3 linked regions of the Homo sapiens genome follow. The protein of the gene in region 3 purifies or fractionates together with the protein of the main gene of each other region. This does not show direct contact. Each region holds a gene or a part of one and is shown on either strand. Other genes may lie near its edges.

Region 1 (3,651 bases), on a different chromosome or scaffold from region 3:
TTTGTTTGTTTGTTTGTTTGTTTTGTTTTTTGAGACGGAGTCTTGCTCTGTCGCCCAGGCTGGAGTGCAGTGGCGCAATCTCTGCTCACTGCAAGCTCCGCCTCCTGAGTTGATGCCATTCTCTTGCCTCAGCCTCCTGAGTAGCTGGGACTACAGGCGCCTGCCACAGCACCCAGCTAATTTTTTGTATTTTTAGTAGAGACGGGGTTTCACTGTGGTCTCGATCTCCTGACCTCGTGATCTGCCCGTCTCGGCCTCCCAAAGTGCTGGGATTACAGGTGTGAGCCACCGCACCCGGCCAATTATCCCATTTTACAGATGAGAAAGCTGAGGCATAGAGGGTTAAAGTAACTTGAGCAAGGTCTTTCAACAATGACAGATCTGAAATTTGAGTGCATCTGATTTAGTTCCAGAGATTATGCTCTTTACCATCTTACGGACTTTTCTTGTAGTCTTTAGTATTACGGACTTTTAATTGAAATTTCTGATTAAGATCATTTATGTTCCTTGAGTTATTTATGTATTCACTATTATTTCTTCAAGATTATCCATTTTTTTTTCACCTGAGTCTTACCTCACCTTTTATCTTACCCTGACAGGAGACTGTTGGGCAGAGTACTTGATTTTTAAATGTGGTCTTTTGGGGCTTGTGTACTTGCAGTGTCCTGACGTTCGTTTGAATATCATCTCCAATTTGGATTGTGTAAATGAAGTGATTGGAATCCGTCAGCTCTCTCAGTCTCTCCTTCCTGCCATAGTGGAGCTGGCAGAAGATGCCAAATGGAGGGTCCGCCTGGCCATCATTGAGTATATGCCGCTGCTGGCAGGCCAGCTGGTGAGTATGTGTTGCTCCATGAACTGCAGGGTAGTGTCAGATAGTGACAATTTACCATGGCAAGTAGGAGGCCTAGTAGCCTGTATGCTTATGTTTGTTTAGATGCATGAAAGTATGGCCTTGTTCTTGTTACCTATAGGATGGTTTTTATGTTTGTTAGTGCATACGTTTCTTTTCTTTTAAGATGGAGTTTCACTGTTGTTGCCCAGGCTGGAGTGCAATGATGCAATCTTGGCTCACTGCAACCTCCACCTCCTGGGTTTAAGCGATTCTCCTGTCTCAGCCTCCCAAGTAGCTGGGATTACAGGAATATGCCACCACACCCAGCTAATTTTGTATTTTTAATAGAGATGGGGTTTTACCATGTTGGTCAGGCTGGTCTTGAATTCCTGACCTCAGGTGATTCACCCGCCTCAGCCTCCCAAAGTGCTGGGATTCCAGGCGTGAGCCACTGCATCTGGCCTATTAGTGCATACATTTCTAACAAAAAGGTATAGGTTGAGTATCCCTCATCTAAATACGCTTGGGACCAGCATGTTTGGGACCAGAAGTGGATTTTGGAATATTTGCATTATAAATATTTACTGGTTGAGCAGCCCAAATTCAAAAATGCAAAGTCCAGAATGCTCCAATGAGCATTTCCTTTGAGCATCATATCAGTGCTCAAAAAGTTTTGGATTTTGGAGCATTTCACATTTTGGATTTTTGGATTTGGGATGCTTAATCTGTATTACAGAAACATATTTCACCTCATCACCACCGAAAAACAAAGCCATAGAATAATCAGTTTCTTGGTATATATAATGTAAATTTTATAATATTTAATGCCTTTGTGACTTAAGAAATGTTTAACTGAGAAGAAAAGGGATTATGGTTTTAGGGTAAGTCTGCTGTGATTTTTGCTCAAGGAAACTTCCCTGTTTGCCTTGTATTCTAAGCAAAATGTCCCTAGGTACCACTTGCCCTACATTCTGATTAAAGGGAGTTGAGGAATCACCATATAGAAAAGAAGTATTGAAAGGCCGGGCACAGTGGCTGACACCTGTAAACCCAGCACTTTGGGAGCCAGAGGCAGGCGAATCACTTGAGGCTAGGAGTTCCAGACCAGCCTGGCCAACATGGTGAAACCCCATCTCTACTAAAAATACAAAAATTAGCTGGGCACGGAGGTGCACACCTGTAATACCAGCTACTCGGGAGGCTGAGGCAGGAGAATCGCTTGAACCCAGGAGGCGAAGGCTGCAGTGAGCCAAGATTGCACTACTGCACTGCAGCCTGGGCAACAGAGTAAAACTTTGTGTCAAAAAAAAAAAAACAAAACAAAAACAAAAACTGAAGCTTGTAATGTTAGTATTTTGGTCAAAGTCCACATTATCACATTATCTGTTACTGTTTGAGTTTCGTGATCAGTGTTACCCTAACTAATACCATGTTAGTTAAAATTTCAAAGCTGGGTTTTATAGCCACATCCTTTCCTTTTTTTGAGTAGGTGGCCTAGACAGTTCTAAGTTTGATGTACCTTCATCTCTGTTGGTAGCACTTATTACAGAGTATTGTAATTGTCTGTTACAGTCTAGTTGGAGAGATGGGTGATCTCTTTTAGGGCAGGGACTGTATTTTATTTCCAGTCCCTACCATAGTGCCCGTCATTAATTAGGCACTTAACATTTTTTATTTTGGGGGCAGGGTCTTGCTGTTGCCCAGGCTGGTCTTGAACTCATGGCCTCAAATGATCCTCCTGCCTCGGCCTCCTGAGTAGCTGATAATAGGCATGAGCCACTGTGTATAGCCAACATTTGTTGATTGTTGAGTATTTTTTGAGAAAGATGTGTCAGTTTACTATTGACATCGCTACAGTTTGTTTCCCCTTCCTCACTCCCACTTCCATTCCTTTCAGGTCACAACATATGGAATTTATTTTTTCTTGTCTTGAACCCCTGAATTTGTATTTTTAATTTTAGTACATTTAGTTTATGAACATGCAATTTGTGGATGTCTGTGGCATTATATGTTTTATAAAATTGAAAGTGTCCGATTCTTTGAAAAGTATACCAGAGGTATTAGTGCATGGCAAATGGGATCAGGTGAAGTTATTTTGTCATCCTTTTTGTCTGTCACTCCCAAGTGCTATGGGTCATCTTCTCTTCACTGGTGATTGTCATGGATCTACTTTTCAGAGTGGAGAGGAGCAGTGATTAACTGATTTGCTGAAGACCAAAACTATCTGGAAGGGAGGGTGCATTTTAGTACCATTTCTTTTAACCTCTGCTCCTTCTAGACCTGGAAAGTTTCCCAGGGTTGCTAGCTCTATAGAGAGCAGTGTGAAAGCAAGGCAGATGGTGTCTTTGGCTGACTTACACCTGTCTGGCAGGGGTGACATGCCTCAGTCATGAACATTTTGCTTTACAATTTTAACTTCTTGTTAGTATATATATTCTCCTTAATTTCTCTTCATATCTAAATATTTTTATATCAGATAGTCATTTTATAAAATTCTCTCAAGACTTTATGTATGACCTGGCTTGTGGACGATGTTAAGTAAGTGTAAAGTTAAACTACAAAAACCGGAAAATAGGCCAGGCGTAGTGGCTCACGCTTGTAATCCCAGCACTTTGGGAGGCCTAGGTGGGTGGATCACCTGAGGTCAGGAGTTTGAGCCCAGCCTGACCAACATGGTGAAACCCCATCTCTACTATACAAAAAATTTAGCCGGGTGTGGTGGTGGGTGCCTGTTACTTGGGAGGCTTCTTGGGAGGCTGAGGCAGGAGAATTGCTTGAACCCAGGAGGCGGAGGTTGTAGTGAGCTGACATTGCAC
Region 2 (3,651 bases), on a different chromosome or scaffold from region 3:
AAGCATTGTTTTGGGAGCTGGAGACACAACAGTGAAAACAGATAAAGACTACTACCCTCAAGGAGCTTATATCTTATTGAGGAGCTTACATTTTAGAAAGAGAGGGAGGGAGGAAGGGAATGGAAGGGAGGAAAGGAGGGAGGGAGGGAGGGAGGGAGGGGGGAGGGAGAGAGGAAGGGAGGGAGGAAGAGCTGCCTAATTGCTCAAACCTCCCAAGTTAACTGGCTGATACCTAGTGGTCTTGTGCATGACCTCATACAAAGCACTTTACTGCAAACTACCTGTACACTTAATAAACATACCTCCTGTTTGTGGCATTATTAAAGTAGTCTTGACTGTTAAGATTGCCATCCTGTGCCCTCTAACTTGAAAACTTCAATGAGGGCTTATTTGAGTGAAATTGTGGAGTTCCACAGAGCAGGGGAGAGCTGATAGCTTGAACCAGGAAGGCCAGCGATTCCCAACTGACAGTAGAGGACTCTAGAGGACCATAGAGTTATCACAAGAAGTCTGTTAGTTTGCAGATCCACCAAGCATTGTCTATGGACTGAATAAGCACTACTCTTCATATGCATGAAGATAACATTATAGTGTTTAAAACTGCAAATTCATTTAAAAGCATTGCTAAATTCACAATAACACTAACAGAATGACAGATTGGTTTTTATTTTTGTTTTTACCATAGGGAATTCTAAAAGTCCAAATTCCATCTTTGGACGCCAAACCGGACTGAGCAGAAGAATCTTCTGGTATGTGAACTAGGGTCCTGGTTCTGGTTATCAGCTCTCCTCCACCTAAATAAGACCTGATTCCCAGGCACCACATGCTGATGTGGTCAGGAATGAGATGGCACCTACCTCTGCAGCTTGGCAGCTCCTCGAATGGAGACATTGGGTCTTATTCACCTCTGGGTCTTTAGCACCCAGCACAAAGGTCAGACAGGGTCCAGACGCAGTTGTGCCCACTTTTCGAGGCTAGAAAATAATGATCTAAGGAAAAGACGATTTGAGGCCTTCAGAAAGGGAATACAGCAGCAAAGCCAGTGAGCCTGTTAAGCTACTTGAGCACTGAAGGATAAGAAATCCATACCCTGTAAATGTGTATGCTAAATGCACTTTTGGTAATAATGTTACTTTCTTGTTCCCATTGGTTTTTAATAAAAGGTGCCTTCTGAAATGCCAACCAGCCTCTACTAGAATAACAGAAAATAGTCAGGATGCAGGTGTGTGGCAAGTAGTGTCTACAACTGGATTGAAAGCTACAAGGGAGAAGAACAGGTATAAAGATGGCAGAGGGATCAGGAGGGATTGCAACAGTGTCAGGGTCACTGGCCAGCCACCCCTTCCCACCTGAAGATCCTTTTTCTGGAGCAATTTTCCATTCAAAGAAGACTATGTTTTGCTTTAACAAGAGAGCCTGTTGCCTCACACCTATTCTCTATATTCTCTATATGAGAAAGTTTGACCTTCCTTTCTCCTCTCCAGCTTCAGCTCACCCCCGGCCACAACTACAGAACCACAGGGTGCCCTCAGTTACTAAAGGTAACAGGAGTTATTTCTCATCCTGGACAAGTTCCAACTAGAGAAAATGCCAAGAAAATGACTCTCGAAGAACAACTGACTTTGAACTTAGCATCACTGCAGAGGGCAGAGCACTAGTCTGGTTGTCAGAAGGCATGGCTTCTAGGTGGAGGCCTCCTGTCACTGACCTGCTGTGTGACCCAGCCGGTACCACATTCCCAAATCAGCAGATTAAATACATGATTAGGCCACCAACAGCAGGGGTACAAAAGACAGAGAGGAAGGGAGAAAGAATCTAGTAAGATATTTTAATTTCAACATCCATGTGAGCTTTGAGCCATTTAAAAAGAGTAACATTTTTGTTTAAAGGTTTAGTATTGCTTTCACTTGGAATTACATATGGGGAGGCACTAAAATCTTTTCAGCACTCATGACTACTGAAGGTCTTGATCCAGCTGGGTGCCTTTGGACAGGTACCTTCCCCTTTCTGGGTCCGGGATGTCAAGTGTTATGACACATATGGTGGTTAATGACTGAATTGTTGGTACCACACCAGAGAGGTACAGGAACAGATGATGTAAATATACCACTCTCCTCCTAAAACCTAATCAATGTCGTCAAGGTCAAGGTTGAGCCCAAGAGCCATAACTTGAATCTTCTCCTATTACTCTACTATTCCAACATCCTGACACTTTTATCACTTTAGCTATTCATGTGTCTTAAAAAAGAGAAGATTAAATGTCTTGTTTCTAAAGTGGAAGAAATTCTAGTGGACATTTTGGTATCCAAATCTCCAGGGAAGATGTTTTCAACACATGGAAATACCATGAAGCAGACCAGGAATTTCATGGTATTTAAAAAGAAAATGGAAAGCAGGGTGGGGTGGGAAGAGAAAAGAAAATGGGTTTGCTTCTCCCTCCATACTCTGTCAACCCTCTGTCCCAAGAGCCTCGGGATGAAACGTACCACAGAGACAAAGTAAGCCCTGGCTGAGTGCCTGTTCCAAGTCCCCAAATTCCTGCCACCCTCCCCACTCCATCTGACTCAAGAGGCCATCTCTTCTCTTCATTAGCAAGGACGGTCAGACTCAGGGTCCACAACACCTCATCTAATGGCAAACTCATTGCAGTCTGGAGGTGCTTTTTTCATTTTTTCATCTCCGTATAGATTTACAACAGTCTATCCTCACACTGGAATTATGATTTAAACACAAATAAACCAGCTGTCCTTTCTGATTTGGAGCCAGAGTTGCCATAAAGTTGGAAAATCAAGAAGTAGGAATTTTACATAAAGATGAAGAGGGAGTTTTCACCACGGACCCAACTGGCTGTATTCAAGCCAAAATAATTGTAAGAAGCAACAGAACATCTTTCCCACAGCAAGTTCATGAGCTAGTGTAACATGATAGTTTTCCAGTGTTATTAAACATACCTAGAATTATCTAGCCCTTCAGTGACTTCCTTGATGGCAAAGGAGATATTATATCCCTACGCGGATGGCCTGATTGCTTTTGTAATTATCATCTAAGCACCTACAAACATTATATAGATCTCCAAGGGAGAAGTTGGAAAGCTTAGATTGACTCAGCATATGGTGGCAGGCATGGAGCTATTTCCCAATGGCTTTGACTACACCATTTTTTAGATGAAGAACCCAGTGTACAGGCCACAGATGCCATAAAACAGGACACATTCAAAACCAGATGTGGGGAAAACCTCAACTTATAGGCAGGGCCATGCCTAGGGTGTGGCAACTGCCACAGATCCACAACCACAGGGGCCTTCGGCAGTCCTGTGGTCTACCGTCTCCTCCTTCCATCCCCATCTCCCACACCATACCAGTTACAAGAGCTTTTAGGGCAGTCTCAAAGGGGTTCATGTTACCAAAGAACAGCCTTCAGTGGAGTGGGTGGGATGTTGCGAGGCAACTAGCCTAGCCCAGTCCACCCCTGTAACCTTGAAGATGGTGGGGGCATGACCCATGATTGTGATTGTGTAGAGAAGCACCTTCAACTTCTTCAGCATCCACTTTCTCCTCCTCTATCTCGCTCCTCCTCTCTCTGTCCTCCCCTGCTGCTTCTCAGGGCCCCAGCCCAGCCTGCAGGCTATAGGCCAGTCTGACTTGCCACTAC
Region 3 (3,651 bases):
GTCACCTAGGCTGGAGTGCACTGGCACAATCACGGCTCAACACAGTCTCAACCTCCCAGGCTCAAGCGATCCTCCCACCTCAGCCCCGCAACGAGCTCACCTTGCAGGTTCAAGCGACTCTCCTGCCTCAGCCTCCCAAGTAGCTGGGACTGCAGGCGCGCACCACTATGCCTGGCTAATTTTTGTATTTTTTGTAGAGATGATGTCTGGCCATATTGTCCAGGCTGGTCTTGAACTCCTGGACTCGAGTGATCTGCCCACCTTGGCTTCCCTGAAACCCTGTCTCTACTAAAAATAGAAAACTAGCCAGGCAAGGTGGTGCATGCCTGTAATCCCAGCTACTTGGTAGGCTGAGGCAGGAGAGTCGCTTGAACCTGCAAGGTGGAGGTTGCAGTGAGCCAAGATTGCACCACTGCACTCCAGCCTGGGCAAGAGGGCACTCCAGCCTGGGCAACAAGAGCGAAACTCCATCTCAAAAAAAAAGGAGAATTCTTCCCACAGAGTACTGAAGACTGACTTTATTTTCTCCCAGTCATCTATGTTGATGGCCAAGAAGCTGCATAAATAAGTTATTATCATTTATTCAGCAAATATTTGTTGCCGGGCGCAGTGGCTCACGCCTGTAATCCCAGCACTTTGGGAGGCCGAGGCGGGCGGATAACGAGGTCAGGAGATCGAGACCATCCTGGCTAACAGTGAAACCCCGTCTCTACTAAAAATACAAAAAATTAGCCGGGCGTGGTGGCAGGCGCCTGTACTCCCAGCTACTCAGGAGGCTGAGGCAGGAGAATGGTGTGAACCCGGGAGGTGGAGCTTGCAGTGAGCCAAGATCGTGCCACTGCTCTCCAGTCTGAGCGACAGAGCAAGACTCTGTCTCAAAAAAAAAAAAAAAAAATTTGTTGAGTACTCACTGTGTGCAACGCACTATTTGGAGTACTTGGATGTGTCGGTAAGCAAAACAAAGTTTCCTTCCCTCATGGAGCCACGTTCTAGTTTGGGGGGAAAAGATAAACAGATTCAGTAAATAAGTGAATTATCAACATATTAGAACGTGATAAGAAATGTGGGGGAAAGGAAAAGTAGAGCAGGATAAGAAAGGGAATTGGGAGTCTAAGGTGCATGACGGGGGGCAAGTTACCACCTTAAATCAGGTGGTCAGGGTAGACCTCATTGAGAGGGTGACATGAGCAAAGGCTTGGAGGATGTGAGGGAGTCAGCCATGTGGGTTCCTGGAAAAGAACATCCCTGGCAGAAGAAACAGCCAGTGCTGAGGCAGGAGGGGGTCTCGTTTGTAAAATGAGTGCAGATGGGCTGAGTGGTGTGAAGGGCATGGGCCTATTTGGGGCAGGAAGGGGAGAGCCGCCCCTTCCCCATTCCTAGCAGTAGGGGTTCCTGTCTGATCTGGAAGCTGCTGAACTGACCACAGATCCAGCTGATCTCTGCTGCCTCTCCAGGAGGAGAGGGTGGTGGGAGCCTTTCCTATGGTCAATTGTGCCTTTTCTCCCCTGCAGCTTCTTACACCAGTAATTTGGCCTACAGCTTCTATAGTCACAAGCTCTATGCCGAGGCCTGTGCCATCTCTGAGCCGCTCTGTCAGCACCTGGGTTTGGTGAAGCCAGGCACTTATCCCGAGGTGCCTCCTGAGAAGGTACAAGGGAATGAGAGATGCAGGAAAGGAGCTTATGTGGTTGGGGAGCGGGGGGAGCGGGGAAGGGCCTCACCAGCACCCTGCCTTGGAGTGGGAGGTTAATAGCAGCATGTTGACACCAGTATCTGGAGCAGTGTTTCCCAAACCTCACTGTACTGTTACTTACTGTTGACTCATTTTTTTTTTTTTTTTTTTTTGAGACGAGTCTCGCTCTGTCGCCCAGGCTGGAGTGCAGTGGCACAATCTTGGCTCACTGCAACCTTTGCCTCAGCAAAGGTTCAAGCAATTCTCCTGCCTCAGCCTCCCAAGTAGCTGGGATTACAGGTGCCCACCACCACGCCCAGCTAATTTTTGTATTTTTTGTAGAGACGGGGTTTCACCATTTTGGTTGGCCAGGCTGGTCTCAAACTCCAGACCTCAGGTGATCCGCCTGCCTCAGCCTCCCAAAGTGCTGGGATTACAGGTGTGAGCCACCGCAGCCGGCCTGACTCACTTTTTATATTTAGCCTGGTCCTAAGCTACTGGTTTCCAGCCAAGCTGCACATTAGAATCACCTGAGTGACCTTTAAGAAAATTCTAATGTCTGCCCCGAGTTAATTGCATCAGAATCTCTAGTGTTTGCCGGGCGTGATGGCTCACGCCTATAATTCCAGCACTTTGGGAGGCTGAGGCAGGTGGATCACCTGAGGTCTGGAGTTTGAGACCAGCCTGTCCAACATGGTGAAACCCCGTCTCTACTGAAAATACAAACATTAGCCAGGCGTGGTGGCATGTGCCTGTAATCCCAGCTACTTTGGAGGCTGAGGCAGGAGAATTGCCTGAACCCAGGAGGTGGAGTTTGCAGTGAGCCGAGATTGTGCTACTGTACTCCAGCCTGGGCTACAGAGCAAGACTCCATCTCACATCTGAATATTTTCAAAGATCCCCCAGGTGGTCCTTTGAGCAAGGAGAGTGAGAACCTGGGTTCTTGGTTTTTTGGTTTTTTTTTTTTTTTTTTTTTTTTTTTTTTGGAGACTGAGTCTTGCTCTTGCTTTGTCACCCAGGCTGGAGTGCAGTGGCACGATCTCGGCTCACTGCAACCTCCACCTCCTGGGTTCAAGCAATTCTCTGCCTCAGCCTCCTGAGTAGCTGGGATTATAGGCATGCGCCACCATGCCTGGCTAATTTTTGTATTTTTAGTAGAGACGGGGGTTTCATCATCTTGGCCGGGCTGGTCTTGAACTCCTGACCTCATGATCCACCCGCCTCGGCCTCCCAAAGTGCTGGGATTACCGGCGCAAGCCACCGCGCTGGGCAAGAACCAGTGTTCTTAAGCAAGAATACCTGTGAACTGATGCATTGGCGGGATTGGCAAGCAAGATGAGTCATAGAGGGGCTTGGGTTTCATCTTAACTGAGATGATAAGCCTCTAAAGGATTTAAGTGGAGGCATGACAGCAGACAGGCATTTTGGATTTCCCTGACTTCGCTGTGATGAATGGAGTGCAGGAGAAAAGACCGGGTAATCAGGCTGCTATAGTATTCTAGGCAGGGAAGGGTGGGCTGAACTGAAGCAGCTGCACGAGGGATGGAATGCAGTGGATCGGTGCGAGAAGCCAAGGATTAACCTGGTAGGTGACTGGCGGGAGGGAGAGCGAGAGAAGGGAACATCAGAGATGGCCCCACATTTCTTACTCAGGAGAAGGCAGTGCCATTTGCTGAGAAGGATTACAGGAGAAGCAGGTTTTCAAGGGTGTGGATGATGAACATAGGGGTGGAGTGGATTGCAGCCTCTGAGTTGAAGGCACTCAGAGTATTTCATTCTTAGGTGTCTCCTGCCTTGGGTGGGTGTGGCTCAGGAGGCCCACCTGCCAACCCCGCCCCCTCATGTGGTGTATGTACCTATTGCATGCATATCCCCTTCCACCATACACACTCACTGGTTCCTCTCCAGTTTGGTCTGTTCCCTTTCTCTGGTCAGTTGCACAGGTGCTTCCGGCTACAAGTAGAGAGTTTGAAGAAACT

Evidence for each region.
Region 1: the proteins of ESPL1 (region 3) and PPP2R1B purify together in Homo sapiens (co-immunoprecipitation; one study listed by IntAct). This does not show direct contact.
Region 2: the proteins of ESPL1 (region 3) and NHSL2 purify together in Homo sapiens (co-immunoprecipitation; one large-scale study listed by IntAct). This does not show direct contact.

The regions. Positions count from the first base shown.
Region 1 is NC_000011.10:111,749,343-111,752,993, reverse strand, and holds part of PPP2R1B (serine/threonine-protein phosphatase 2A 65 kDa regulatory subunit A beta isoform), read left to right. Parts: intron 1-661; coding exon 662-835; intron 836-3,651. UniProt on the Homo sapiens protein: The PR65 subunit of protein phosphatase 2A serves as a scaffolding molecule to coordinate the assembly of the catalytic subunit and a variable regulatory B subunit.
Region 2 is NC_000023.11:71,913,769-71,917,419, reverse strand, and holds part of NHSL2 (NHS-like protein 2), read right to left. Parts: intron 1-3,651.
Region 3 is NC_000012.12:53,271,210-53,274,860, forward strand, and holds part of ESPL1 (separin), read left to right. Parts: intron 1-1,511; coding exon 1,512-1,648; intron 1,649-3,607; coding exon 3,608-3,651. UniProt on the Homo sapiens protein: Caspase-like protease, which plays a central role in the chromosome segregation by cleaving the SCC1/RAD21 subunit of the cohesin complex at the onset of anaphase. During most of the cell cycle, it is inactivated by different mechanisms.